Homo sapiens: one gene and its partner. The protein of the gene in region 1 purifies or fractionates together with the protein of each later gene. This does not show direct contact. Each region holds a gene or a part of one and is shown in the gene's direction. Other genes may lie near its edges.

The links. Proteins that work in one complex are often made in the same cells at the same time.
Region 2: the proteins of DNAJC27 (region 1) and FAM184A purify together in Homo sapiens (affinity purification with mass spectrometry; 2 studies listed by BioGRID and IntAct, with this or other methods). This does not show direct contact.

Annotation. Positions count from the first base shown.
Region 1 is NC_000002.12:24,954,941-24,961,968, reverse strand, and holds part of DNAJC27 (dnaJ homolog subfamily C member 27), read left to right. Parts: intron 1-3,994; coding exon 3,995-4,159; intron 4,160-4,803; coding exon 4,804-4,926; intron 4,927-5,831; coding exon of another isoform or gene 5,832-5,882; exon of another isoform or gene 5,883-5,938; intron 5,939-7,028. UniProt on the Homo sapiens protein: GTPase which can activate the MEK/ERK pathway and induce cell transformation when overexpressed. May act as a nuclear scaffold for MAPK1, probably by association with MAPK1 nuclear export signal leading to enhanced ERK1/ERK2 signaling.
Region 2 is NC_000006.12:118,970,661-118,977,688, reverse strand, and holds part of FAM184A (protein FAM184A), read left to right. Parts: intron 1-1,644; coding exon 1,645-1,772; intron 1,773-2,480; coding exon 2,481-2,665; intron 2,666-3,114; coding exon 3,115-3,261; intron 3,262-7,028.

The DNA of each region.
Region 1 (7,028 bases):
CACCCACATTAGAACTTCATTCAAAATTGGAGTCAATTCAGTTAAACTCTGCTGCTGCCTTATCAACTAAGTTTATGTAATACTCTAAATTCTTGCTTGTCATTTCAAGAATGTTCATAGCATCTTCACTAGGAGTAGATTCCATCTCAAGAAACCACTTTCTTTGCTCATTGATATGAAGCAACTCCTTATTTATTTTTTATCGTGAGACTGCAGTAATTCAGTCACATCTTCAGGCCCTACTTCTAATTCTAGTTCTCTTCCTATTTCCACCACATCTGCAGTTACTTCCTCCACTGATGTCTTGAACTCCCACAGAGTTATCTGTAAGGGTTGGAATCAACTTCCAAACTCTTGTTAAGGTTGATACTTTGACCTCTCCCCTGAATCACGAATGTTCTTAATGGCATCTAGAATGGCGAATGCTTTCTACAAGGTTTTCAATTTGCTTTGCCTAGAGTAATCACTATGGCAGCTGTAGCCTTGCAAAATGTATTTTTTAAACAGTAAGACTTCAAAGTCAAAATTATTCCTTGATCCATGGGTTGCAGAATGGATGTTGTGTTAGCAGGCATAATAAAAACAGCTTTAATCTCTTCGTATTTCTCCATCAGAACTCTTGGGTAATTAGGTGCATTGTGAATGAGCAGTAATATTTTGAAAGGAATCCTTTTTTCTGAGTAGTAGGTCTCAGTAGTGGGCTTAAAATATTCAGTAAACTATGCTTAAACAGATCTGCTGTCATCCAGACCTTGCTGTTCCATTTATAGAGCACAGGCAGAGTAGATTTAGCATAATTCTTAAGGGCCCTAGGATTTTCATTATGGCAAATGAGCATCAGCTCATATAGCCCGTAACAGCTCTGTCAGCCCGTAACAAGAGAGTCAGCCTGTCCTTTGAAGCTTTTGAAGCCAGGCATCGACTTTTCCTCTCTAGCCTTGAAAGTCCTAGATATCATCTTCTTCCATTAGATCTATCTATTCCAAGCCTGTTTCATCTGCATTGAAAATCTGTTGCTTTGATTAGCCACCTTCATCAATGATCTTAGCTAGATATTTTGAATAACTTGCAGCACTACATCAGCATGTGCTGCTTCATGTTGCCCTTTTATGTTACGAAGATGGCTTCTTTCCCTAAACCTCATGAACCAACAACTGCTAGCTTCTGACTTTTCCTCTGCAGCTTCCTCATCTCTCTCAGCCTTCATGGAAATGAAGAGAGTTAGAGACTTGCTGTGCATTAGGTTTTGGCTTAAGAGAAGGTTGTGGCTGGTTTGGACTTCTATCCAGACCACTAACGCTTTCTCCATATCAGCAATATGCTGTCTCACTTTCTTAGCATTCATGTGTTCACTAGATTAGCATTTTTAATTTCATTCAAGAAGTTTTCCTTTGCATTCATAACTTGGCTAGCTGTTTGGTACAAAAGGCCCAGCTTTTGGCCTATCTGTTTTTGAAATGCCTTCCTCACTAAGCTTAATCATTTAAAGGTTTTGATTTAAAATGAGAGATACATGACTCTTCCTTTTACTTGAACACTTAGAGGCCGTTGTATTGTTATTAATTGGCCTACTTTCAATATTGTTTTGTCTCAGGGAAGAGGAAGGCTCCAGGAGTGGGAGAGAGATGGGGCAACAGCCATTTGGTGGAACAGTCAGAATATAGACAACATTTATTAAGTTTGCTGTCTTAAATGACCTTATATGTTCATGGTATCCCAAAACACTTAAAATAGTAACAGATATCACTGATCACAGATGATCGTAACAGACATAATAATGATGAAAAGTTTGAAGTATTATAAGTGTTACCAAAATGTGACACACACATAAAGTGAACACACACTGTGGAAAAATGGCATCAATAGACTTGCTTGACTTAGGGTTGCCACAGATCTTCACTTTGTAAAAAAACACAATATGTACATACTGTGCAATAAAGTGAGGTGTGCCTATGTGCCTTACATAGGTGCAATAAAGTGAGGTGTGCCTGCATCTGCTAGGCCCTGTGGGTGACACAAGGGAGGATACATGAAGATGATGCATGTCTTCACATTTCTTCTAGTGTAGGAGGGAAGACAGCTGGATATGCTACTAACTGTAAAACTGGGCAGGAAGTGATGGCACTATGAAAGTACAAAACAGTATGGTACTCCAGGGGACATAGAGATTACATTCTGTTTTGCAGGAGTAGGGGGCTGGATGGTGAGGAATGGAACAGAGAAAGCTGCATGAAAGATACAGCATTATAGCCAGGGCTTGAACAATTAAAGATAAAGAGGTATCTGTTTCCAGATGGAGTTAGGAAGGCTTGGGCAAGTTTGGGGAATGAGAGATTCCCCAGTTTGAAGGTCAGGAGCTAGTGGGAGGATAAGACTGGGAAGGTTGGTGGAGGACTGATCAGAAACTTTTAACATCATTTGAGAAAGTTGGAACTTTGGAGAATAGTTTAAGAAGGAAGAAGTTGAGGGGTTTCCTGTGTGCATATTGAATTTGAGATTCCAACAGGACATTCAGCTGGAAGAATGTTGTGCTAATTAGAAATGCAGGTCTGGAACCTCAGAGGAGAGGGCTCATCTTGGAGATTCTCACAGTTGAAACTGTACAAGTGGTTGATGTTGCTGATTTGGGAGGAAGGATTCAAAACGAAAGGAAGAAGGCATAGGACAGGATTTGGGGGATTTTGGTGGTAAGCTGGAGTGGGAGCAATAGAGAGAAGGGGAGTTGGTGAAAGAGAATTTAAGAGCCTAGGGAATGTGATGTATGGGAGCCAAGGCAGTGAGAGTTTTAGAAAAGAAGAGAGAGCCCGTCGTTAACTGCTGTAGAAGGGCCAAGGACCATGAGTACTGAGGGAAAGGACTGGTGGGCTTCATCATCTTCAGTTCTTTCTGATTTTGTTGGTTTTAACTTTAGGGGATAGCTTCTTAGGTTTCTGTAAACAAATAGGAGCACTTAATATCCTTGGTCCAGATATCTGCCTATGCCCAGAAACCCTACCCGATGTGTATAACATGTTTTCATTTCTTACTACATAGCTTGTGTGGGTCTGAGTACATTTGGGAATTTTGTGAAAAGAACATATAATATATGGGCTCTGTCAGGATTCTTTCTGGAACTTTGTCCCGGAAACCCCATGTGTCAATGCTGCTCCTTAACTTCTCTCTGGCCCTAATGTTTGAGTATGCCCATATTTCATGCTGCCTCTTCCCACATTTGGAATGAAGCCCAGAGAATGAATGCAAGGAAGGAAGGGGAAGGTGTTAAATAGACATTGTTTTTCAGGCACCATGCTAAGTACTTTGCCTGCATTATCTCATTTAACCATCATAATAACCCTGTGAAGTAAGTAGTATTATCCCCATTTTACAGATGAGGAAACTGAGACGCAGAGAGGTTAAGTGACTTGCCCAAGATCACAAAACTAGTAAGTAAGTGTGAACCCAGATCTGTCTGACTCCAGAGCCTGTGCTCTTTTCCATTGTATCACACTGAGGCTCTGAGTTTGGAGTTCTAAAGTTGGTGTGCAGACCCGAGAGTCAGGGAAGCTCTGCCTAGCACCCTGGGGGAAGCCAGCTTTGGGATGTGATTTATAAATGGCTGTACCCATTGCTGACACTTATGTCATTTTGGCCTTAAGTTCTTTTGAATTGCTCACTCACCTTCCTAATTCTTCCTAAGAAGAACTTTATATAATTGATGTTCTTTTAAGGTCTACTATAATTAAAGACTGATTGCCTCTAGGGAGTGGAACTGGAGGTGGGACGGGGTGGGGCAGGAGGCTGTTGTTTTCCATTGTAAGTCCTTCTATGCTAATACATTTTTAGAATGACATTACTTTGATTCTATAAAAAACCCTCTAATGACCAGTAGAAACAGATACAATAGCAAACACTAAGAATACACAAAAGAACACACTTTGCCAGGTTAATGACTGTGAGATACATTCTTATAACATCACAAAAACTACGTTTTGTGTATCTGTCCTTTTATTTGAAGGTTCGAAATGAGTTTTACAAGGACACACAGGGTGTGATACTGGTCTATGATGTTGGGCAGAAAGACTCCTTTGACGCCCTTGATGCGTGGCTGGCAGAAATGAAGCAAGAGCTTGGACCTCATGGAAACATGGAAAATATTATATTTGTAGTTTGTGCCAACAAGGTAACCCCTCTGGAAATGGTGTGTTCAGATTTCTAGGGAAAGAGTGGAGCTTTGAGTGTTGGGAAACAAAAAGAAAAGAAAAATTCCTTATTGTGTAATATGGAAATCAATAACCTTTCAAAACATAATGTCCCTAAGACAAAAACAAAACAACACAGCAGCCTAAAACCTGCTATATCAAAATTTGTATACATTTTTTTTTTTCTGGTGCCATACATGGGGAAGGATGTTGGTGACTGAGTGGGAGCAATGGTTCCTAATAATCAGACTCTGACCCGACTGGAGTAGGGGCATTAATTAGGTGATGTGGACTATGGAAAGGTGTGAAAAGCAGACTATGGCCCCAAGGGTATGGCAGATGTCATGAAGCCAACTTTCACAGAACTGAGTAACAGCTGTTTTCCCAAGGGATCAGGTGGGACATTGCAGCAGCAGGCACTAGTCCTGTTGCCATAGAATATCAGTCTACATTCAATATTAAGTTTTGTTTCTGTCCCTTTGGTCCTGGTAATTTTACACACTAGTGCAGGCATTTACTAAGAATAGCTTTGCCTTAGTAAAGGATTGACAGAGACCCTCACTGGGTCCATTCTAGTAGGACAAGATTGTAATCTTCTCTCTGTCCCCCGCCCCTTCTATTTCAGATTGATTGTACCAAACATCGCTGTGTAGATGAAAGTGAAGGACGTCTTTGGGCTGAAAGCAAAGGGTTCCTGTACTTTGAAACTTCAGCACAAACTGGAGAAGGCATTAATGAGATGTTCCAGGTAAGCTAGCATTTTGTTGTTTTAAGGTTTGTGTCAAGGCCACTGTGCCAATTTTCAGTTTAAATTATAGGAAGCAAAAAAGTAATAGGAATTTCTCATTAGAATAAGCTCTTTCTTTTCAAAGAATCTAGTGAGATAGAAATAGAGAAAGGGGGAGAGAAAGGAAGAGAGAATGAGAATGAGTGATCTGACTGCTGTCTATTTTAGATGAGACTTAGCTGATCACCAGAATTACCTGAGGAAATTCTTAAAATACATACTTCTAGGCTTCAGACCTACTGGAAGCTTATGTTGCGATGGAGCCCAGGAATCTATATTTTGAAAAAGCTCTCTCTCCAGGCGATTCTGAAGATCATCAAGTTTAACAAAAGTTATTATACACTGCTTAAGCAGGACAGAGATTTTCTTCAAAGCTACCTTTGGCTAATGGTATTACATTTATATGCATAATCAGATAGAAGCATTACTGTGGCAAAATTGCCTTGCCACCGCTAGTATAATCCTATATTGTAGCCCACAGGGGTGCAGTTAGAGAATAGGAGACTGTCAGTATAGACTCCATCCAGTCACACATAAAAATAAGGCCTCGCCAATCAAGCAGGAAATAGAGGGAGGCGCTCACATCACAACCTGAACAGATGGCCACTTTAAAAAAACCTACTCATCTTGAGTAATTTTAAGGGAAATAGGCTATTTAAAACAATAACTTATAAAGTCAGCCCTTAATTATAGATACATTTGGAAGTAAGTGGTAGCATGAATAATGTAGTTTTCTTCTTATGAATATATCTGATATTTTGGGAATTTTTAGCATTTCAAATAAAGTAGTTACACTATAAAGAGTTGTTCTTAATTATTGAGTGGGATTGTACTTAATCTTTTATGCTGAATTTCCTTCTCACAAGATGTCACTCCTCCTGCTAGAAGACAGATTTCTTCCTTGGCTGACAGGCTGAATTAAGCAAAAGTATTTTCTATTTCAAGATCAAATAAAGTTGATGCTGGTTTGCCATGCTTTCTATTCTTTTGAGTACTTGGAGCTATGTGACTTTGTGCCTGTATGTGTACAATAATGATACCTAACCATTTGAATAGTACTTCACCATTCTGGAGAATTTTACACATTTCATCTCATGGAGACTTACAGCAACAATGTGTGGCAAGTATTGTTATCATTTCATATATGAGAGCATCTAAGGGTAGTAAAGTGATTTGTCCAAGGGACATACTTGTTAGAAATGAGATTTTTTTCAACACTTTAAAGATGCTGGTCCATTCTCTTCTGGCCTCCATTGTGTGTCATGAGATGTTAGCACTCATTCTGACTCTTATTAATCTCTGTACCTAATGTGCCCTTTTTACCCCCTGGCTGCTTTCAAGAGTTTCTCTTTTCTTTGGTTTTCAGCAGTTAGAATATGATGTGCCAAGATGTGATTCTCTTCATTTTTATTCTATTTAGGATTTACTGAGTTTCTAAGATTGGTAGGTGGGTGTTTTTCATCAAATTTGGGGAGTTTTCTGTTTTGTTTTTGTTTTACTATTATTTCTTCAGAGTTTTTTTGGCCACATTCTGGCTCTCTTTACCTTCTTGGCCTCCAATTACATGTATATTAGACCATTTGATTTTGTCCCAGAGTCCCTGAGGCTATATTTATTTTTCTTCCATTTTTTTATGCATTTTTCAGATTGCATAGTCTCTGTTGATTTGACTTCACCACTGACAATCTACTGTTAAACTCCCTGAGGGAAGTTTTCAGCTCTAGAATTTGCATTTGGTTCCCAGTATAGTTCTCAGTTCTCTATTAGATTCTCTGCTCACTCATTAAGAGTATATTTTCCTTTAATTCTTTGAATGTATTTTTCTTTACCTCTTTGAAATATTTATAATAGCTGTTTTACAGTCTTCATCTGCTAAGTCCAACATTTGAACCATCTTGGGTTCAGTTTCTATTTACTACCTTTTTTCCTGACTATGGATCACATTTACATGTTTCTTTGTATGAGTAGTGGTTTTTGATTGAACACCAGACCTTGTGGATAACACATTGTAGAGACTCTAGATTCTTTTATCTTCCTCAGAAGACCGTTGGTTTTTTTTTCTT
Region 2 (7,028 bases), on another chromosome or scaffold:
TATAACACCTGGCAACCATTACCCTGTTCATTTCTATGATTTTGTCAGGTTAAGAATGCTCTAATTTTATAAATGAAATCATACAATATTTAACCTTTTTGGGGAGAAGGGATAGGGTCTCACTCTGTTGCCCAGGTTAAGAATGCAGTGGTGTGCTATCAGCTCACTGCAACCTCCACCTCCCGGGTTCAAGCAATCCTCCTGCCTCAGCCTCCTAAGTAGCTGGGACTATAAGTGTGTGCTGCCACACCCAGCTAATTTTTGTAATTTTTGTAGGCAGGGTTTCACCATGTTGCCCAAGCTGGTCTCAAACTCCAGGCCTCAAGTGATCTACGGGTCTCGGCCTCCCAAAGTGCTGGGATTACAGGTGTGAACCACCACACCCAACAATATTTAACATGTAGAGGTTGGCCTTTTTTCACTCGGCATAATTATCTGAAGTCATCTAGGTTATTGTGTGTATCAACAGTTTGTTTCTTTTTATTGCCAAGTAGTATTCAGTGGTTTTGATCCACCGTAGTTTGTTGTCCTTTGCCCGTTAAAGATCACCTGAGCTTTTAGTTCTTAGCTGTTACAAATAAAGCTGCTATAAACATTCACGTACAAATTTCATATAAACATAAGTTTCATTTCTCTGGGATAAGTGCCTAGGAGTGCGGTTGCTGGGTCATATGGCAGCTGCATATGTAGTTTTGTAACAAACTGCCAAACATTTTCTAGAGTGATTGTACCATTTTCCATCCCTACTAGCATCATATAAATTTTGCTCACATCCTCACCAACATTTGATGTTGTCATTATATTTCATCCTTTCTGATAGGAATGTGTGATAACTCATTCTGGTTTTAATTTGCATTTTCCTAGTGGCTCATGATATTGAACATTTTTCAATATCATGAGAACATTGACCAGCCAGGCTCCTTTAGGGATATTTTTGAAGAATTCTTATTTGGGTGAGAAGTTGCCTCCTAAATATTTGTTATGGTACCATTAAACTCTAAAATTTCATTCTTTTTTTTTTTTTTGAGATGGAGTCTCACTCTGTTGCCCAGGCTGGAGTGCAATGGCGTGATCTCGGCTCATTGCAACCTCTGCCTCCCAGGTTCACGCAATTCTCCTGTGTCAGTCTTCTGAGTAGCTAAGATTACAGGAACCTACCACCATGCCTGGCTAATTTTTTGTATTTTTAGTAGAGACGGGGTTTCACCATGTTGATCAGGCTGGTCTCGAACTCCTGACCTCAGGTGATCCACCCACCTCGGCCTCCCAAAGTGCTGGGATTATAGGCATGAGCCCCCGTGCTTGACCAAATTTTATTATCCTAATAGTGAAAGAGACGAATTAAAAATACTTCATCTCCATTAGCACTTTACCTGCATACTGAAAGCATGTATAAAAATACCTTGATCCGCTTAAACATTTGAAATATTTTATATCCTCATCAAAGCTACATTAACTTTAAATTCATGATAGTATATTGTAGTCTGTAATATTTAAATTTGTCATAGTTTATAATCTATTAATTTAATGGACATACACAAGTGTTCTAATTTTTGAAATAATTTTTTACTTCTATAATTTTTATCTAAAGTATTGATAATATTTTTTAAATGTGCCAAATGTATTTTTGCCTTGCAATTCCAGCTTCCTTGCGCTCAGAACTCAACCATCAACATGCAGCTGCAATTGATTTGTTACGGCATAATCATCATCAAGAATTGGCAGCTGCTAAAATGGAATTAGAGAGAAGCATAGACATCAGCAGAAGACAGGTAAGTAAGAGTATTCTGTACTCTGATGATTTCTTAAATTTGAATAGATTGAATGTTCATAATTTCCTGAAAATTATTTTGTAATAACTTATTTTCACTAGTTATCACATTCTATTTATATTGAAGAGCTTTATTTGATTCAGTTATTTATTTATTTGAGACAGGGTCTCGCTTTGTCACTGAGGCTGGAGTGGAGTGGCACAATCACAGAAGGGAGCTTAACTGTCAGATAACTGCTAGAGCAGCACTAAACTAAGTCTGCTTTGTAAGCCATGTGATGTGTGTGTTTTAGGAGGGCCTCCTTAGATGCACTTTCTCTTTAGATTATAGGCAGTGGTGCCACAATTATTCTTCAAAATCATGTAAAACTTACTGAGGATGTAAGAGCACTGTGTTCTAATCTCAACTAATCCACTGATTATAAATCATCTTTGGGTATTGGTTTCCTCATCTGTAAAATGAGAGAGATGTCCTTTGACCTTTTGGGTTCTTTGTAATCTGACATTATTGAAGCTATATCCATATACACACTATATGTGTGGAAAGAGAACAGGCCTTGAGGTTTTCTCATTTCAGCAGTTTGCTTTTGAAGAAGCAATGTCAGAATGATTACATTTGACATTCCAGTGTGTCATTTTCTTTCCCGCAGATAAACACAGAAATCAAATATGTAGAAAACTTCTAAAAATGACTTTTTTTTTTTAACAGAGTAAGGAGCACATATGTAGAATTACAGATCTACAAGAGGAATTAAGACACAGAGAGCATCACATCTCTGAATTGGATAAGGAGGTTCAGCACCTTCATGAGAATATAAGTGCCCTAACCAAAGAACTGGAATTTAAGGGGAAAGAAATTCTCAGAATACGAAGTGAATCTAACCAACAGATAAGGTATGCCATTAAGTACAACAGAAGGAATATGCAGTGTCATCTGAAAAACTGTTGTGCTGATATTTAGTAATCTATGCTAATTTTGTGACTAGACTGGCTCTCTAGTAAAATATTGAAGACCTCTTTTTACTTTATTTGATGACTATGTTATAATCTAGAACACAGATGAAATGTTTATATCTTGAATGATGTAACATGTATTCATTCACTTTGGAAATTGTATATAATTAACTGAATTCTTTTTAAAATGTTATTTGAAAAAGCATTAAAGGAGACAACTTTAACAAAGCCAGAAGCTTATAGCAGAAAGTAAGTAGCTTAATTTAGGCTGTTTACATAAATTTTCTATATATTATACCAAAAACCATTTCAAATCTGGTAGAATAATAGAAAGTTTTGAAAGCTTGACTTCAGAATAACATTTTCTTAACTAAAAATAAATCAAACAGGTTGCATGAACAAGATTTAAACAAGAGACTTGAAAAAGAGTTGGATGTCATGACAGCAGACCACCTCAGAGAGAAAAATATCATGCGGGCAGATTTTAATAAGACTAACGAGCTACTCAAGGAAATAAATGCCGCTTTACAAGTGTCGTAAGTCATATTATATAAGAAAATTCATATGTGGATAATAAATTTAGGAGCACTGTGTTTAACCTCAGATTAGCTGTTATTTTGACTCTAATAAAAAGGATACTTTAAAAAGAAAATTTTAGTGCTGTGTTACAGATGGTAATTGCAGTGCTATATGTTCTTTAATTAGGATGAGGCAGTTGAATGATGATGTTTTATCAACTAAGACTGCACCAGTTCTGCTAGAACAGTAATCTAAAGAATGTTCCTTAGGATCATGAACTATCATGCCATGGTGAAAACTGAAAATATGGCTATATATAATGTTAAGTAAAAAGAATATATAGTGAACAATAGGAATACTATGATCCTATATACACACTAATAATGTATATTTTACCAAAATATCAAAATATCTTAACAAATACCAAATTTTAATGGTAATGGTTCCCTCAAGAGAATGGATTAGGAGGTACTGGAGATGAGAAAGAGCAATTCTTTCTTTTTATTTTATATACTCCACTTACATATTGTTTAAATTCCTACAAGAAGCATCTAATTGTCTTATGATTTTAAAAATCAATAAAGGGGAAAACATTACAAATAAAGTTACCGCTCATACATAGTAACTACAGTATTGTTAAAACCAAAGTTTCTAATTCTTATTTAATGTTCTTTGGAAACATTTAATAACCCTTCCTTTCCTAGATGCTTGTAAACTGATGTAGCTAATGCAGTTTGTACTCAGTCCATCTCTGTGGCCTAAACCCTGGTCCAACATAAGTTATTTCAGAATTAATCTACTCTAAGCTGCTGCTAGTAGTTTATTCACCTTTAGTCTCTCCTCTTCCAATCAAATATATATATATCCACATACTTCAGTAAAGTCACAATTAGTGACTAATCCCATTATCCTTCATGTCAAAGTCAAATGTAAACTTAACAGCTCCAATGTGCCTTATTCTACATCATCCAACAGCAACCCTTATTTCTTATTCTGTCTTTTTATCAGCCTAGTGGACCTTCTTGGTTTCCTGTGTTGTCCTCTACAGTCTAGAATAACCTCCTGTGTTGTTGCCGTTTTAAGTATTGTCCTCAAATCTAAAAATTATCTTCTTTTATTTGATTTATGTGACCAATTCAATCTTTCGGTAAAGATTGTTACATACATAGGCAACACCACAACACACACATACAGACGCACACATGCACACACATGTATTCACTTAAGCCACAGCAGAAAACAGGTCCCCAGTTGTTATTTACTTGAGTATGCTGTGAGATGAGGTGCTCTTTCTGATGGGCATATTCAGAATCGTTACATTAGTTAAGCACTCAGTGAATGTTTCATGAATGAATTTTATGATTCTTTCTCCATCATATTTACCACTTTTTGAAGTTGCCTTTGAAATGGTGAGGAAACTTGTGTTACTTCCCTGGTCACTCTGAGTTTGGTGTTTGCTGTTATTAGAGGTGATTTTTAAATCCTTTTGGGCCAAGTATGAGCTCAGGTATCTGCCTTGTATAACAGCTCATAACCCCATACTTTTGCAGAAATGATTTACAATAGACCTCAATTCCTTGGCTGTCCTTTTTCCTGGCCTCAGTGGTACTCCTCAGACAGAGACTGAAATCTTGGCATCCCCCACTTCATGCTCCGAAAAAACATAGTCACAGAAAGAATAACGTCAGTCTGTCTGTGTGTCCTGTCTCCTTAGGAATGTTAATTTACAAAGAGTAAAGGTTGTGTCCTTGTTTTTCCTTTATTCTGTTGCATATGGTTTTGCACATTATGAATCTTCAGTAGGTAGCAAATAACTTAGTTTTTGATTTTATGATCATTTTTAATAATCAAAGAATTAGTATTTGCTTTTAAGTAAACTACCTGCTTTTCTAGACTCTCCTTTCATTTTAATGCTTCCACTTGGGTCCATGCTAACCAATTATGTTTCTTTTTTCACCAGAAACTTACTGCCACCAGGTAATTACCCCCTAGCTTTAGGTGTTTACTCCTTTAGTTAAAAACAAACACACACCAAATTTATATTTGACCAACACTGTCCAATAGATTGTGATAATGAAAATGTTTTGTATCTGCTTTGTCCAGGTTAGTAGCTTCTAGCTAAAAATGGCTCTTGAATGCTTGAACGGTGATTAGCATAACTGAGGAGCTGAATTTATAAATTTCATTTAATTTTAATTAATTTAAATGTAAATAGCCATATGCAGACTAATGGCTACAATGTTGGAAAACATAGTTTTAGACAATTGGTTGTTTCTGTTTCATATCCTTAAATGCAGCCTGCTTGGATCTGCTGAATGGTTTGGATTTAGACAGGTAGTGAGCAGGGAGAGTTGGTTCCAACTTATGGAGCTGTGGGAAACAGTATCTGTACTGTTCCCAAGGACTAGGGGATTCTATTGAAGTTCCTAATCAGCTGCACCCTGGCTTTAAAACTTTGAAATCAGAAGAGTCCTGTGGATTCCTGGAAGGCAGTGGTGCTGGGGGCTGAAGGGACATGGTGCAGCCTGACAGGCCACAGCCTGCCACTGAGGAAGCTTGGGGGCAGAGGCAGCTTCTTGCTTCTGCTCCTGCCCCAAATCCTGTTGAACTCCCTTCCTGGAGAGAGAAGGGTGGGGCAACACATGTAAAGGATGGGAAATACCCTCTAAGTCTGTAAGTATTGTAGAAGTGGTGATGAGTTCTATATTGCTTATGGATGATGATTATTACAAATCCGCTTTGGTGCTGGAAGTTAAAGTTTTAGATTTTTCAGAGAGTTCTATAGAAATTTTATTTTTCAGTGATATAGTAGTAAAAACTTTATATCTAATAAAAATGTCCTGATTCTGGTTTCTTTTAGAAACAAATGAGAAAATGGGCTGTTTGATTTTTTTTTATCTGAATGATTTACTCTGTAAGTAAAGAAAGTTCAAGCTAAATGAAAACATTCTCTACAACTTGAGGTCATGGCCGATTTTTAATATGCAAAAAGATGGTTCTGAGATTACTGATTGTTTAGGTTTATTTCACAAAAGATGATTTCTTCTTGAGAGAAATGTTGAGTTTCTATACTTAGATTTTAAATAGATCAGTAATCCCCAATTGAAAAGAAGCACTCCGCCACACCTGAATTACTAATTTTTTGTTTAAGTTTTGAGTCCTTTCATCTATAATACCCAAATAACTTTTGTTTTTGTTGTCATTTGATTTTTAATTTACCATTCAGGTATGGTTGTAAGCTTTGTGAGGTACGGAAGTAGTCTTGTCACAAATCAGAGTCTGTGCGTAATTTATGGGAAAAGAAAGGTTCAGCGTTAAAGTGCTTCAATTGCTATATTTCCTTTATTTAAGAGTTTAGAAAATGATGATATAGGAGTTTTTTCATCTTTATAAAATCAAAGTTATAGGATATATGTGTGCATAATATACTATTGTTTGGTTATGAAACAATAGTATACCATTTTTGGTTCTAAAATTCACTGATTTTATTTTTTTATCCTTTTCTTTTTCTTAACAAGACTATAACTTGGAAACTTTGTATACAGCTTTTTAGGCATTTGTAATTTAGGCCTGTTGTCCATGAATCACAGACATTGACCTGTATATTGTCAGAGCCAAAGAAAGCAGGGCATGCATGCCTGGTGAGAATCCATCAGTGGCCCTAATTAGTAATTTTATATGTTCTACTTCTCCTTTCTCCTTTTTTCCCCCTTTCTCTTCTCTCTTCTATTACTTTTAATGGAAATCTGTAAAATTTGAGTAAAAGGCTACACTTGTGTGGTAT